Homo sapiens: one gene and its partner. The gene in region 1 interacts genetically with each later gene. Each region holds a gene or a part of one and is shown on either strand. Other genes may lie near its edges.

Region 1 (7,220 bases):
AGGCCCAAGAGAATTTTCAGGGATTCTCAACCAATTGCTTCAGGTCCTGGGGAAAGTGTTGCTTCAAACAGGCCCGAAGAGAAAAGCAGTATTGGGAATTTTACAACTACTTTTATGTGCATTAATGGATACTGCTGTGAAGAACAAGGCCAGAGAGAGCTAATAAAATTAGTTTCTCCATTAACCTGCCTAGACCACATTGAAAAGAAAAAAAAAATTAGTTTATCCAAGGAAGGAGATATACTTAAATAGGGGAGATAGGCTACATTCAAACCTATTGCAAAATTACCTTTAGACAATATTCTTTCAGTATTAAATGTGGATTATAATTGGAAGTGAAACTTTGTTTTGAATCGGTAGCCTTTTTCCATAAAGTGACACCTTTAAATGAAACTTTCAGCAAAATAATTTTATAATTTCTATTGAAGCCAACAACTTCCTCACAGGTTTTCCTGCTTCAAATCTTGCCATTATAGGAAAACTTTCTGACTGCTACTACTGGGCAGGCAGCTCCTAGGGAGATACTGGGTCATTACCCTGGATGTCCCAGTGTGGCTCAAGGTCCTTGTCAAGCATTATCTCATGTAAATGTTGCCACAACCTTCCAAACTTGCCAGTTTCATAAAGGAGAGAAACCTAAGGCACAGAGAGCTTCAGCAGCTTGCCCAAAACCATGCAGCAAGTGAAAGGCAGAGCTTGCTGCTGCAGCAAAGACTGGTAAGAGCCCCAAAGGGAAGGTGAACCTAAAGAAATAAGAATCCGCAGGTTGTGGAGTCAAGCCACACTTCATCGTGTGAAGAGTCTCCCTCAGATGCTCACTTTGGCACAGCTGGATACTATTTCATTCAGGGATTCAGTAAGTTTTCTTATTTGATCTTCTTCAAATCCGTTAGTAAAAACCAAACAAATTAGCTAACTGGTAGACTATCTCCAATATTACAGTATAAACTCACAGCCCCACAAAACGTGCTGTTTACTCAGAGGTTGTGCCCACAACATAACACTGGTGGTGACAGGGCCTCTTTTCAAAAAGGCACAGTCTTTCAAGCATGCCCATAAGGGAACACATAGGTTTACATAAGAACCCCGACACAAAATACATCATACTGTAGGATTCTATTTATATAAAATTCCAGAAAAGGCAAATCTATAGTGACAGATCAGTGGTTGCCATGTTCCAGGTGGAGGAAGGTGACTGACTGCCAAGGGTCACAGGGGAACTTCCTGGAACCTTGAAAATGTTTATTCTTTGTCATGATTGTGGTTGTCGTTACATGACTATATACATCTGTCAAATGTCATCAAACTACACAATTAAATTTCATGAATTCTACTGTATGCTAAGTGTACCTCAATAAGACTTCCAGAAATAAATAGATTTTTTAAAAATAGTTGAGGCTCAGCCAAGTGAGTACTGATTGTGGGGAAGAAAAAAATCACAAGTCCAAGTTTATGGGGAATCAGGTAACAGAACTTGTAATTTTGTCTCATCATCTGTATAACAATAGCATCTTTCATGCCTGTATTATTTCTGCACTCATTTAAACTCAGGCTGTTGCAATCCTGATTTGAAATGACAGGCAGGTGTGAATGCCTCACTCGAGTGGAATATAAAGGGTAAGGCAATGCGGTGCAGCAGACACAAAATCTAGCCTCAGTTCTGATGCCCATTACTTGTTTCCTTGAGTTAATGCCACTTAGCCCAAAGAGTCTACAGCTCTACTGCTTGCCTTATGTTGCAGGGACCTTCAGTTTTTTCATCTGTGAAATCGGAGGGTTACTGTAAATCCCAAATGTCCATCTCTTCAGTCATTTATTAATTTAGCAAACATTTCTGAGGACCCACTTATTGGGCACTTAAAGAAGTGAGTATGACACGGCCCTGCCCTAGAAGACCTTGCAGTCTAGGAAGGAGGTTCATGCTGTGACTTCTGAGCTTCTGCCTGGCTCTCTGGTTCTCTCTGGACATTTTCCCCTTGGGACCTGGCCAGCATGCTGTGAGGAAGACCAAGCCACAGGGAGAGGCTGCTGGTTGATTTTCTGGCTCATGGCTCATGGCTCCAAATGAGTAAGTGAGCCGTGTCCCCACCTGACAGACCCTGAGTGACGACCACCTTGCTGGGCCCAATCAAAACGAAATATGAGAGACAAGAAAATGCTCAGTGTTGTAAACCAGCGAGTTTGGGAGAGATTTGCCAGTAACAGATAAGCACAACCTACCCTTAGGGCATCTTTGAGGACGGAGGTTAATAGCTATTTACCAGCCATCCATCCCTGGAATCTGGATTCCTTGTTCCACCCGCAAATATACACTGGCCACCCTCTTTGCACCATAGCACAAGGGGACCTGCCTAAATGAAGAGGAACAGTGAGTGAGCTCTTTAGAACCAGAAGCTGGCTTTTACAATCATTTCTGCTGACCCAAACACAAGCACTTCAACAACAACCAGGCAGACCTACTCCTTGATGTGTTCCTTAAAGACTTTCTGTTACTCTGACTTCCGTCCACGAGGAAGTTTTCCTTGCCCTTAATAAGCGCACTGTCCAGGCCGCTGCCTCTCCTGATTTCCAACTGGAAGGACTGCTGGGGGCAAGGATCCACTGCACCAGCAGCCCGGTACGAACCCGGCCGCGCGCTGGCCTTGTCCTCACCCCGCCGGCTATCGCGGTCTCCGACCTATGGCCAGGACCCGCAAGGACAGGCCCCCCGGGGACAGGGACCGGGACAGGGAAAGTCCCGAGATGAATGGCCGAGCCCCGGCCCAGCGCCCTTGGGACTAGCGGGGCCCGCTCACCTCTGGCCGACTACGCTTCTGCAGCAAATGCTCCAGGTAGAGGTCGGAGAGCGCCGTGTGCATGCTGCCCCCACTCTCGCCCTCGCTCGCCTTGAGGGTCATCTCGCAGAAGCTGGAACACTGGAACGCAAGACAGGGCAGCGCTGGGAATGACAGGGCCCGGGGCCTGCGGGGCTGCGGAGAAGGCGGGAGACGCGGTGCGGCTGGGCCAGTCACCGCCCCGCAGGCGGTGCGCCGGGAGGGCGCGGACGGAGCTCCGCCTACGGCCCGCCCACTCCTGCCCTCGCTCCGCCCATGGAAGTCTCCCACGCCCCGGACTCCGCGGCTCCCTGCGCTCCGAGAAGCGGCCCTTAAAGGGCCTGAGGAAGTCGTAGCTGTAGGTGGCCGCGTGAGATGAATGCCAGAAAGATAAGAAAGGGGAGGGGGCCCCCAGCTTCTGGGTGGTTGAGCACACGGCCCACGCCCCGTTGGGCCTGAGCCGCCCGGGTGCCCTGGCCAAATTCGTGGGGATTGCAGGGAGGCAACAAGGGAAATCAGAATCGGCCGGCTTAGTGGAGTTCAAAAGATGTAGGTGAACTCTAGACTCTTCCCATAAATTGATGCGGGCGCAGCATTACCCTTTGAGATCTGGACATTGCGAAAATGCCTTTAAGGCTGCTGTGCTGCTGCACCCTGTCATTTAATTGTTGTGTGCTGTTTGATGATGAAACATCTTATTGCCTTCAAAACCAAACTGTTTTTACTTAGGGCAGATCTCCTGCTGTAAATGCCACAAAATTTTTCCGGCTCAGCGAAAGCAAAGGCAGCAAACATTCCTTAGTAACCCTAGAGGAGGATTCCTTAGCATCCTAACGCATTGGAGACATTCAAACACCAGTCACAGCGATGGAAGGCTTTCTGAACAAAACAAACATTTAATGGGCTTGTACGGCTCTTGGTCCCCTACCCCAAGCTAGTAGCCTCACAGTATTAGAAGCAGTTCATCACTACATGTAATCTTATTCTGACCTTCCTCAAAGCTTCCTGGGAAGGAGGAGCTCATAGCCAAGAGGAGAAAATCCAAGGGCAACAGTTTAGAGCTGCATTGCCCAGTTTTCTCTACCAAGAGGCCGAACTCATGTGAATGACGGTTCCCTTCCTCAAGATCACTCTAAACGAACGGGGGGGGAGGGGGGGGTGGGGTGGGGGGGGAGAGATTGAAATTAAGACTGTGATATTGAGGCATGGATAGATTAATTGAGCAATGGCATAGAATAGAGAACCCCGAAACGCAACCATGCAAGTATAGAAATGTGGTATATGATAGAAGTGGCATGTTAGGTAAGTAAACAGGGACATTTTATTAACTGACGCTGGAAAATGGTTATTTATATTGGAAAAGATGAAATTGGAATCCTCATTCATGTGATATGGAAAATAATAATAATCTATTCCAGATGGATTAAGGAATTAAATGTCAAAAACATACCCTTAAAGCTCTTGACAGGAAACATAGGCAAGGAACTTTTAGACTTTGGGATACAGATTTCTAAACAATGTAGACAAACCATTGACCATAGAATGGAATAGTGGTAACTTTGACTTTAAGAATTTTAATTTATGAAGACACCATAAAGAGCAAAAAACACAGCTGTGCATTGGGAGAAAATATTTTCAATACAGATAAGTGGCAAGGAATTCCAATTGCGAATATATAAAGGACTACAAATTATTAAGAAAAACACAATCCAGTAAAGAAGTGGGCAAAACACATGAATAGGCATTTCACCAACAGAGAGACGCATATGGCCAATAAACATACATATAAAGAGATGTTCGACATCATTAGTGATCAGGAAAATGCAAAGCAAAACTACAATGAAATACCACTGTTCACCCATTCAGTTGTCAAAAATTTAAAAGTCTAACAGTACCAAGTGTTGGGGAGGATGTGAATCCATATGATTTATTGAATATTGCTGGTGGGAGTCTAAATTGGTACCAGTTGTAAGGAAAACGGGTTTCCATTATCTCTTACAGTTGAACATACATCTACCCTCTGAGCCAGCAATTCTGCTCCTAGAGGGAACAACTATTCCCAGTTTGGTCTGTAACCTTCCAGGTCTCCCTCTGTGCATCTGCAAAATATTCAGGACTAGAGTTGCCTTGTTTGTCCAGGTACGAAAACCATAGTATGGATGGCCTTGCTCCAATTTATACTCCTTCCATATTTTCTCAGCCTTATCTACTTCCCAGGCGATCAGGCACTTGATCAATGGAAATCCCTGACTGCCACTGACGTTTTCACATCTCCTGACACTTCTGACTCCTTCACTTTTCTAAAGTGAGGGCTAGGTTCTGAAATGACCTCTACTGCACTCACTGCAGCAGGAGCTTCTGCACTCAAGCTCATCCTGACCAGATCCATGGAGGCTCTGATGACTCCTACCACTTTTGGATTCAGGATTGAACTGTGGTGTGTGGGATCTGGCTTTCCTACTGACTACCAGGACCAAGGTAACACAACTCAGAGGTGTGAGGAAACTAACAAACACCTAATAGGGTGAACTTTGACCACTGACAGAAATGAGACAAACACCCGTAGGCAGATCAATTCCTTTCCTCAACCATTTCAAGATGGTGTGATTCTATACAACTCTTCTGGAAGCATTCAGGAAGACTGTGAGATAAGCTGTGTTTTCTTGAGTAACAGTGGCGAACTCAGTAGCACACCAAAGTATATTTTGTTTCCATCCTTCCCTACCTCACTTCATTTATTCCCTCACTCTTACACCCATGGGATTGCATCCTTCACTAAAGATTTACCACATATGTTTTGCTCCAGGCTTTGCTTTCTACCAAACATAGGCTAAGAAAACAGGTGTCAGAAATGGGGTGGCCTCAGAAAACAGACCCTCAGGATAGGACTTTTGCTATACAAATACATGGACATTAAATAATCTGCTCTTGAATGGTATTTGGGTCAACAATGAAATCAAGATGGAAATCAAAAATTTCTTTGAGCTGAATGATAATAGTGACACAACTTATCAAAACTTCTGGGATACAGCAAAAGTGGTGCTAAGAGGAAGATTCATAGCATTAAATGCCCATATCAAAAAGTCTAAAACAGCACAAATAGACAATCTAAGGTCACATTACCCGACTTCAAACTATACTACAAGGCCGTAGTTACCAAAACAGCGTGGTACTGGTATAAAAATAGGCATGTAGACCAATGGAACAAAATACAGAACACAGAAATAAAGCCAAATACAAACAACTGATCTTTGACATAACAAACAAAAACATAAAATGGGGAAAGGACACCCTGTTCAACGAATGGTGCTGGGAAAATTGGCACGCCACATGTAGATAATTGAAACTGGATCCTCATCCCTCGCCTTGTACAAAAATCAACTCCAGATGGATCTAAGATTTAAATCTAACACCTGAAACCATAAAAATTCTAGGAGATAACACTGGCAAAGCTATTCTAGACATTGGCTTAGGCAAAGAGTTCGTGACCAAGAACCCAAAAGCAAATGCAACAAAAACAAAAATAAATAGGTGGGACCTGATTAAACTGAAAAGCCTCTGCACAGCAAAAGAAATAATCAGCAGAGTAAACAGACAACCCACAGAATGAGAGAAAATATTTGCAAACCATGCATCTGATGACAAAGGACTAATATCCAGAATCTACAAGGAACTCAAACAAATCAGCAAGAAAAAAATAACCCCATCAAAAAGTGGGCAAAGGAATGAATAGACAATTCTCAAAATATACAAATGGCCAATAAACATACGAAAAACTGTTCAACATCACTAATTATCAGGGAAATGCAAATTAAAACCACAATGAGATGCCACCTTACTCCTGCAAGAATGGCCATAATAAAAAAAAATCAAAAAAGAATAAATGTTGGTGTGAATGTGGTGAAAAGAGAACACTTTGACACTGCTGGTGGGAATGGAAACTAGTACAACCACTGTGGAAAACAGTACCGAGATTTCTTAAAGAACTACAAGTAGAACTACCATTTGATCCAGCAATCCCACTACTGGGTATCTACCCAGAGGAAAAGAAGTCATTATTTGAAAAAGACACTTGTACATACATGTTTATAGCAGCACAATTTGCAATTGCAAAGATATGGAACCAGTCTAAATGCCCATCAACCAACAAATGGATAAAGAAAATATGGTATATATACACCATGGAACACTACTCAGCCATAAAAAGGAACAAAATAATGGCAACTCACAGATGGAGTTGGAGACCACTATTCTAAGTGAAATAACTCAGGAATGGAAAACCAAATATTGTATGTTCTCACTTATAAGTGGGAGCTAAGCTATGAGGACAAAAGGCATAAGAATTATACTATGGACTTTGGGGACTCGGGGGAAAGGGTGGGAGGGGGATGAGGGACAAAAGACTAC
Region 2 (6,155 bases), on another chromosome or scaffold:
GTGTGTGGGTGTCAGGGGATGTGGGTGTGTATGGGTGTGTGGTGGGGGTATGTGTGTGGGGGTGGGAGGGTGTGTGTGGGGTGTGGGTGTGTGTGGGGGTGTGGGTGTGTGTATGGGTGTGTGGGTGTGGGTGTGTGTGGGGGGTGGGCGTATGTGGGTGTGTGTGGGGGTGTGTGTGGGGGTGTGGGGGTGTGTGTGTGTGTGGGTGTGTGTGTATGGGTGTGTGTGGGGGTGTGTGGGGGGTGTGGGGGTGTGTGGTGTGGGTGTGTGTGGGTGTGTGTGTGTATGTGAAATTGAGAGTGCATGTTTTGCCTTTCTTCCTCCTTAGCTTACAGAATTGGGCAATTGCAATCTGTCTTCTGTCAGGACCTCACCAATGTACATAGGTCAGTCAAAGATGTTTCTAATTGATTCTTTATTGACATACCTTAGCGCTCCTCCAATTAACTGGAGAATTCCTATGATTGTTGAGGCTTGCTCTTCATAGACATCTTCTCAGCCTTGCCACAGCCCCATTGGTTCCAGTTGCATATGGCAGCCCTTCATGATATTTTACCATTCAGGCTCTCCTGATTTCACAAAGATTTAGCTTATTTTTTATTAATGAATATCTTTGATGTTCAGAGTGGTTTCTGAAAGGAAAAGGAGAGGAAATTCATTACTCCATTATATTAAAAGCAGAAGTCCTTTCTAAGTCTCCATTACTCTTTGACAATATGCATGCCAATTATGTACACCAAAATTAGACTGGCTTTAAAAATGATGAACTTGAGGCCTTGAGAGTTACTGTGATTGAATTAGGGCCATACACATCAGTAAAAATGAACTGACAGGGTCTTGAGCCTGAATTCAACACATCAGATGGTATCTTAGGAATGCAATGTCAATCAAAGCCCAGTTGCTCTCCTTTGTCCACGTGCGGGAGCTTGTATTGCTCTGTTGATTTTAGTAAAATCTAGCTCTGTTACGGTGGCTTTACTGATGAGTTAGAGTTTAAATATGAACTTAGTTTCAACCTACATTAGAGGAACTATAATGGAGCAAACTCAAGAGAAGAAGGAAAAGAGGGACAAGGTTTCCCATACTCACTGACCTGATACTCTTCTTGCCGCAAACGTGAACGCTTATGGCATTGTCTCCCTTAAGCTTCACAGTCCTTCTGAACTGCTGTTATTATCCCCTTTTGACACATGAAAATGCTAAAGTACAAGAAGCTGAGTAACTTTTTTTTTTTTTTTTTTTTTTGAGACAGTCTCTCACTCTGTCACCCAGGCTGGAGTGTAGTGTTGCAGTCTCGGCTCACTGCAATCTCTGCCTCCTGGGTTCAAGTGATTCTCCTGCCTCAGCCTCCCGAGTAGCTGGGACTACAAGCGTGCACCACCATGCCTGGCTAATTTTTGTATTTTTCGTAGAGATGGGGTTTCACCATGTTGGCCAGGCTGGTCTCAAACTCCTGACCTCAAGTGATCCACCTGCCTTGGCCTCCCAAACTGCTGAGATTACAGGTGTGAGCCACCACGCCCAGCCTGAGTAAGTTTTCAAAGCCACCAGTTCAAAAGTGTTCATACTCCATCTTCTATGATCTTTCAGTTCTACCTTTCTGCCTCCCAGGTTACCATATTCATTCAGTTGAAATTGTCTCAGCCACAGCTTTGGGATTCTGTAAAGATAAAAGATGCACCAGAGGGATTCCTAAATGCTTTGTCTTCATCCTTCGAGCTGGGCGATACCTCCACGTTCTGTGTGCTTAGGGGCCACTTCTCTGAGCAGCATTCATCATGACACCCAACACTAATGCAGCAGGTTTTCAACCTGTAGTTTGTAGCCATTAATCAGTTCCTGTGACGTAAGCTATTGTTATCTCATGTTACAGATGAGGCAGCTGGTAGAGAGAGTGGTTAGGTAATTTTTCCAGAATCAGCAGTGAATCCAGGAGAGAGCTGAGACTGGACCTGTCTATCCCAGACATAGCTTACAACATGAGGGCTTTGCTAAAAGTAGTTCAGTAATCTCAACTCCCTTCATCACCTGCACTGTAAAAAAGATGTTTCATCTCACCTGTGCTGTTACCCATAGTGTGTTATAAAACCTGGTAGCAGAAGAGAAAAAGAAAGGTCAAATCAAAGAATATATACACAGGAAGTTTGTTTTTGACTAAGTATTTCAGACCATGAAGCTAAGACCATTTGGGTTTAAAGTTGCTAATAACAACACTTTCTTTATATATATTTAAAAAAATACATCAAGAGGGTTACACAGAAGGAAGCAGCCTATTTGGGGAAGGCTATCAAGCAGTAGAAAGTGATGTGAATGTCTATTTGTTCTTTTGGCTGTTTTTAGTTTCACTACAGAATAGCCTTTTTGGAGTACATAAATCTATAACCACACAAAATATGGCTAGCTTAAAAAAGTGGGAGAGGGAGATGATATGAAATTATCCCCTGAAAAGTCTTACTTTTGAACACTTGCATTATAATGGAAATAGCCTCAGATTTCTTCTGGTGGCATTCCAGCATTATTGGACAATTTATTTTCTCCTTAAGTGACATTTTAGTACATTGTGTGTTATATGTAATGATATTTCTGGAGTAACAAGTGTGCAAGAAGTGAGAGAAAAAGAAAGTACACTTAATATGTAGGCAGGTGTCTCAGCACTTTCTTTTTTGTACGTGAATCCCATTATCTCCAGTGATAACTTTGTTGACAGCACCCACCAATATATTCAGAGCAAGGTTTTATAAAATAGATCCAGAATCGTATGACTAAGAGACCCAGGTGACACGTGTCAGCCTCAGATAGTTGCTACATTTTCTGTTTTAAAGATTCAAACAAAACTTTTCACATTCTTCTTTGGGGAAAAAAAATTACATTTGAAGTCCTTTTTCACCCAAACACGTTTTGAGATAAGAGCTCACAAGTCTTGACATTATTTCATTTTGTTATGCGCATCTGTCAAGGAACCAAGATACGATACAGCTACTAAAAACTGATGATTGTGGAACAGAGAAACTTGACAGCATTTCATTTCCTTTATGTTCTGATTATACGTTTATCAGAAAACCTGTATCTCTTCTAGTTCAGCTAGAAATTGGTAGAATTCAGGAACTCAAAGGCTTGGCAAAGAACTGTCCTATTATTTGGTATCATCTTACATTTTAGAGAAGTTGCTTGGTTGAGTCATTGTTAAAGCTTTTGCTTCTCTTTTCATTATTGTGGGCCACTATCCACAGACCACATTTCTATAGGCCCTATAACTGCTTTGCCGCACAAATTAAACGCCGGGATGTTTCATACGTATATGCCAGCATTTCAATGCTTGTCAATCAGAGTTTATAAAATATAGGGATTACAACTTGATATTAACATCCAAATCTATTGTGCTCATTTTACGTGTGAAAATGAGAAACCCTCATGCAGACGCTAGATTTCCCAGCCTCTTTGTCACCCTGTTTTTAATTTATCTCCAGGTTTTGAGTCAGTAAAATGATTCCGCTTATCAATTTAATACAGAGATAAAACATATCTATGAATCAGAGTGATCGGAACTAAAATGGATCTACAGGTTGTTTGGCATTCAGCCCAGCCCTGCTGAGGGTTTTAGTGGGGCTAATTTCTCTGTACAGTAGATTCATCCCTGTTCTTAAATTGTGCCTCAGTGAGGGATATGATTTGCTTCACATGAAGAAGTAGACACAGAAGTGCATTGTTTCAGGGAGGAGACTTTAAAATTTTGAAACATTCTTTTTATGCTTACCTTTTTTTTTTCTAGGTATACTTCAAAAGAAATTATCCACATATTGGTCACACTGACCACATGGTTACAAACACTTCCAATGGACAGCCCTCGACCTTAACTATTTTCGAGACAGCACTGTGAATCCAACCAAAATGTCAAGTCCGTTCCGAAGGCATTTTCCACTAGTTTTTGGACTATGTAAACCACATTGTACTTTTTTTTACTTTGGCAACAAATATTTATACATACAAGATGCTAGTTCATTTGAATATTTCTCCCAACTTATCCAAGGATCTCCAGCTCTAACAAAATGGTTTATTTTTATTTAAATGTCAATAGTTGTTTTTTAAAATCCAAATCAGAGGTGCAGGCCACCAGTTAAATGCCGTCTATCAGGTTTTGTGCCTTAAGAGACTACAGAGTCAAAGCTCATTTTTAAAGGAGTAGGACAAAGTTGTCACAGGTTTTTGTTGTTGTTTTTATTGCCCCCAAAATTACATGTTAATTTCCATTTATATCAGGGATTCTATTTACTTGAAGACTGTGAAGTTGCCATTTTGTCTCATTGTTTTCTTTGACATAACTAGGATCCATTATTTCCCCTGAAGGCTTCTTGTTAGAAAATAGTACAGTTACAACCAATAGGAACAACAAAAAGAAAAAGTTTGTGACATTGTAGTAGGGAGTGTGTACCCCTTACTCCCCATCAAAAAAAAAAATGGATACATGGTTAAAGGATAGAAGGGCAATATTTTATCATATGTTCTAAAAGAGAAGGAAGAGAAAATACTACTTTCTCAAAATGGAAGCCCTTAAAGGTGCTTTGATACTGAAGGACACAAATGTGACCGTCCATCCTCCTTTAGAGTTGCATGACTTGGACACGGTAACTGTTGCAGTTTTAGACTCAGCATTGTGACACTTCCCAAGAAGGCCAAACCTCTAACCGACATTCCTGAAATACGTGGCATTATTCTTTTTTGGATTTCTCATTTATGGAAGGCTAACCCTCTGTTGACTGTAAGCCTTTTGGTTTGGGCTGTATTGAAATCCTTTCTAAATTGCATGAATAGGCTCTGCTAACGTGATGAGACAAACTGAAAATTATTGCAAGCATTGACTATAATTATGCAGTACGTTCTCAGGATGCATCCAGGGGTTCATTTTCATGAGCCTGTCCAGGTTAGTTTACTCCTGACCACTAATAGCATTGTCATTTGGGCTTTCTGTTGAATGAATCAACAAACCACAATACTTCCTGGGACCTTTTGTACTTTATTTGAACTATGAGTCTTTAATTTTTCCTGATGATGGTGGCTGTAATATGTTGAGTTCAGTTTACTAAAGGTTTTACTATTATGGTTTGAAGTGGAGTCTCATGACCTCTCAGAATAAGGTGTCACCTCCCTGAAATTGCATATATGTATATAGACATGCACACGTGTGCATTTGTTTGTATACATATATTTGTCCTTCGTATAGCAAGTTTTTTGCTCATCAGCAGAGAGCAACAGATGTTTTATTGAGTGAAGCCTTAAAAAGCACACACCACACACAGCTAACTGCCAAAATACATTGACCGTAGTAGCTGTTCAACTCCTAGTACTTAGAAATACACGTATGGTTAATGTTCAGTCCAACAAACCACACACAGTAAATGTTTATTAATAGTCATGGTTCGTATTTTAGGTGACTGAAATTGCATCAGTGATCATAATGAGGTTTGTTAAAACGATAGCTATATTCAAAATGTCTATATGTTTATTTGGACTTTTGAGGTTAAAGACAGTCATATAAACGTCCTGTTTCTGTTTTAATGTTATCATAGAATTTTTTAATGAAACTAAATTCAATTGAAATAAATGATAGTTTTCATCTCCATTCAGAGATCTGTATTTCTGTGCTTCAAGGGATTCCTGACTCATGTTCTTGCTGATGAATGCCAGTGAGTTTTCCTGAGATCGAAAAATACAGTATCAAAGGATACCTTCTATCATCAACCGGTTCTCTTGGCAAATTAGGTGTACCAAGTATTCTAACGGGTAGATTTCAGTGGGTTTCAGACAGTTTGAAGCAGTTGCTATTTAAGCAAGTCCATTTGCACCATTCTAGGAAGAAAGAGTATTAGCTTATGCCTCAGGCTTGAGCAGTATTAAATGGTTGAGGTTTTTGCTTTTGGTTTTGGTTTTTAAGGTGACTTTGTCCAAAACTAACAAGAAACATCTACCGCTGTTACGCTGAAATCACTATTAAATAATGATTCTCAAAGTGTGGTCCCTGGACCAGCAGCATACCGCATCACCTGGGAACTCGTTAGAAATGCACCTTTTTGTGCCTCACCGCAGATCTACTGAATCAGAAACTCTGGTGGTGGGGGCCAGGAATGTGTGTTTTAACAAGCCATAGGGTGACTTTTTTT

The links. Genes that interact genetically often act in the same process or in processes that back each other up.
Region 2: of MPP1 (region 1) and ABCC4, changing one enhances a phenotype caused by changing the other (phenotypic enhancement), as found in Homo sapiens cells (one study listed by BioGRID).

The regions. Positions count from the first base shown.
Region 1 is NC_000023.11:154,802,477-154,809,696, forward strand, and holds the start of MPP1 (55 kDa erythrocyte membrane protein), read right to left. Parts: upstream 3,010-7,220; 5' UTR 2,898-3,009; coding exon 2,796-2,897; intron 2,352-2,795; exon of another isoform or gene 2,221-2,351; intron 1-2,220. UniProt on the Homo sapiens protein: Essential regulator of neutrophil polarity. Regulates neutrophil polarization by regulating AKT1 phosphorylation through a mechanism that is independent of PIK3CG activity.
Region 2 is NC_000013.11:95,019,297-95,025,451, reverse strand, and holds the end of ABCC4 (ATP-binding cassette sub-family C member 4), read left to right. Parts: intron 1-3,769; coding exon 3,770-3,877; 3' UTR 3,878-5,617; downstream 5,618-6,155. UniProt on the Homo sapiens protein: ATP-dependent transporter of the ATP-binding cassette (ABC) family that actively extrudes physiological compounds and xenobiotics from cells.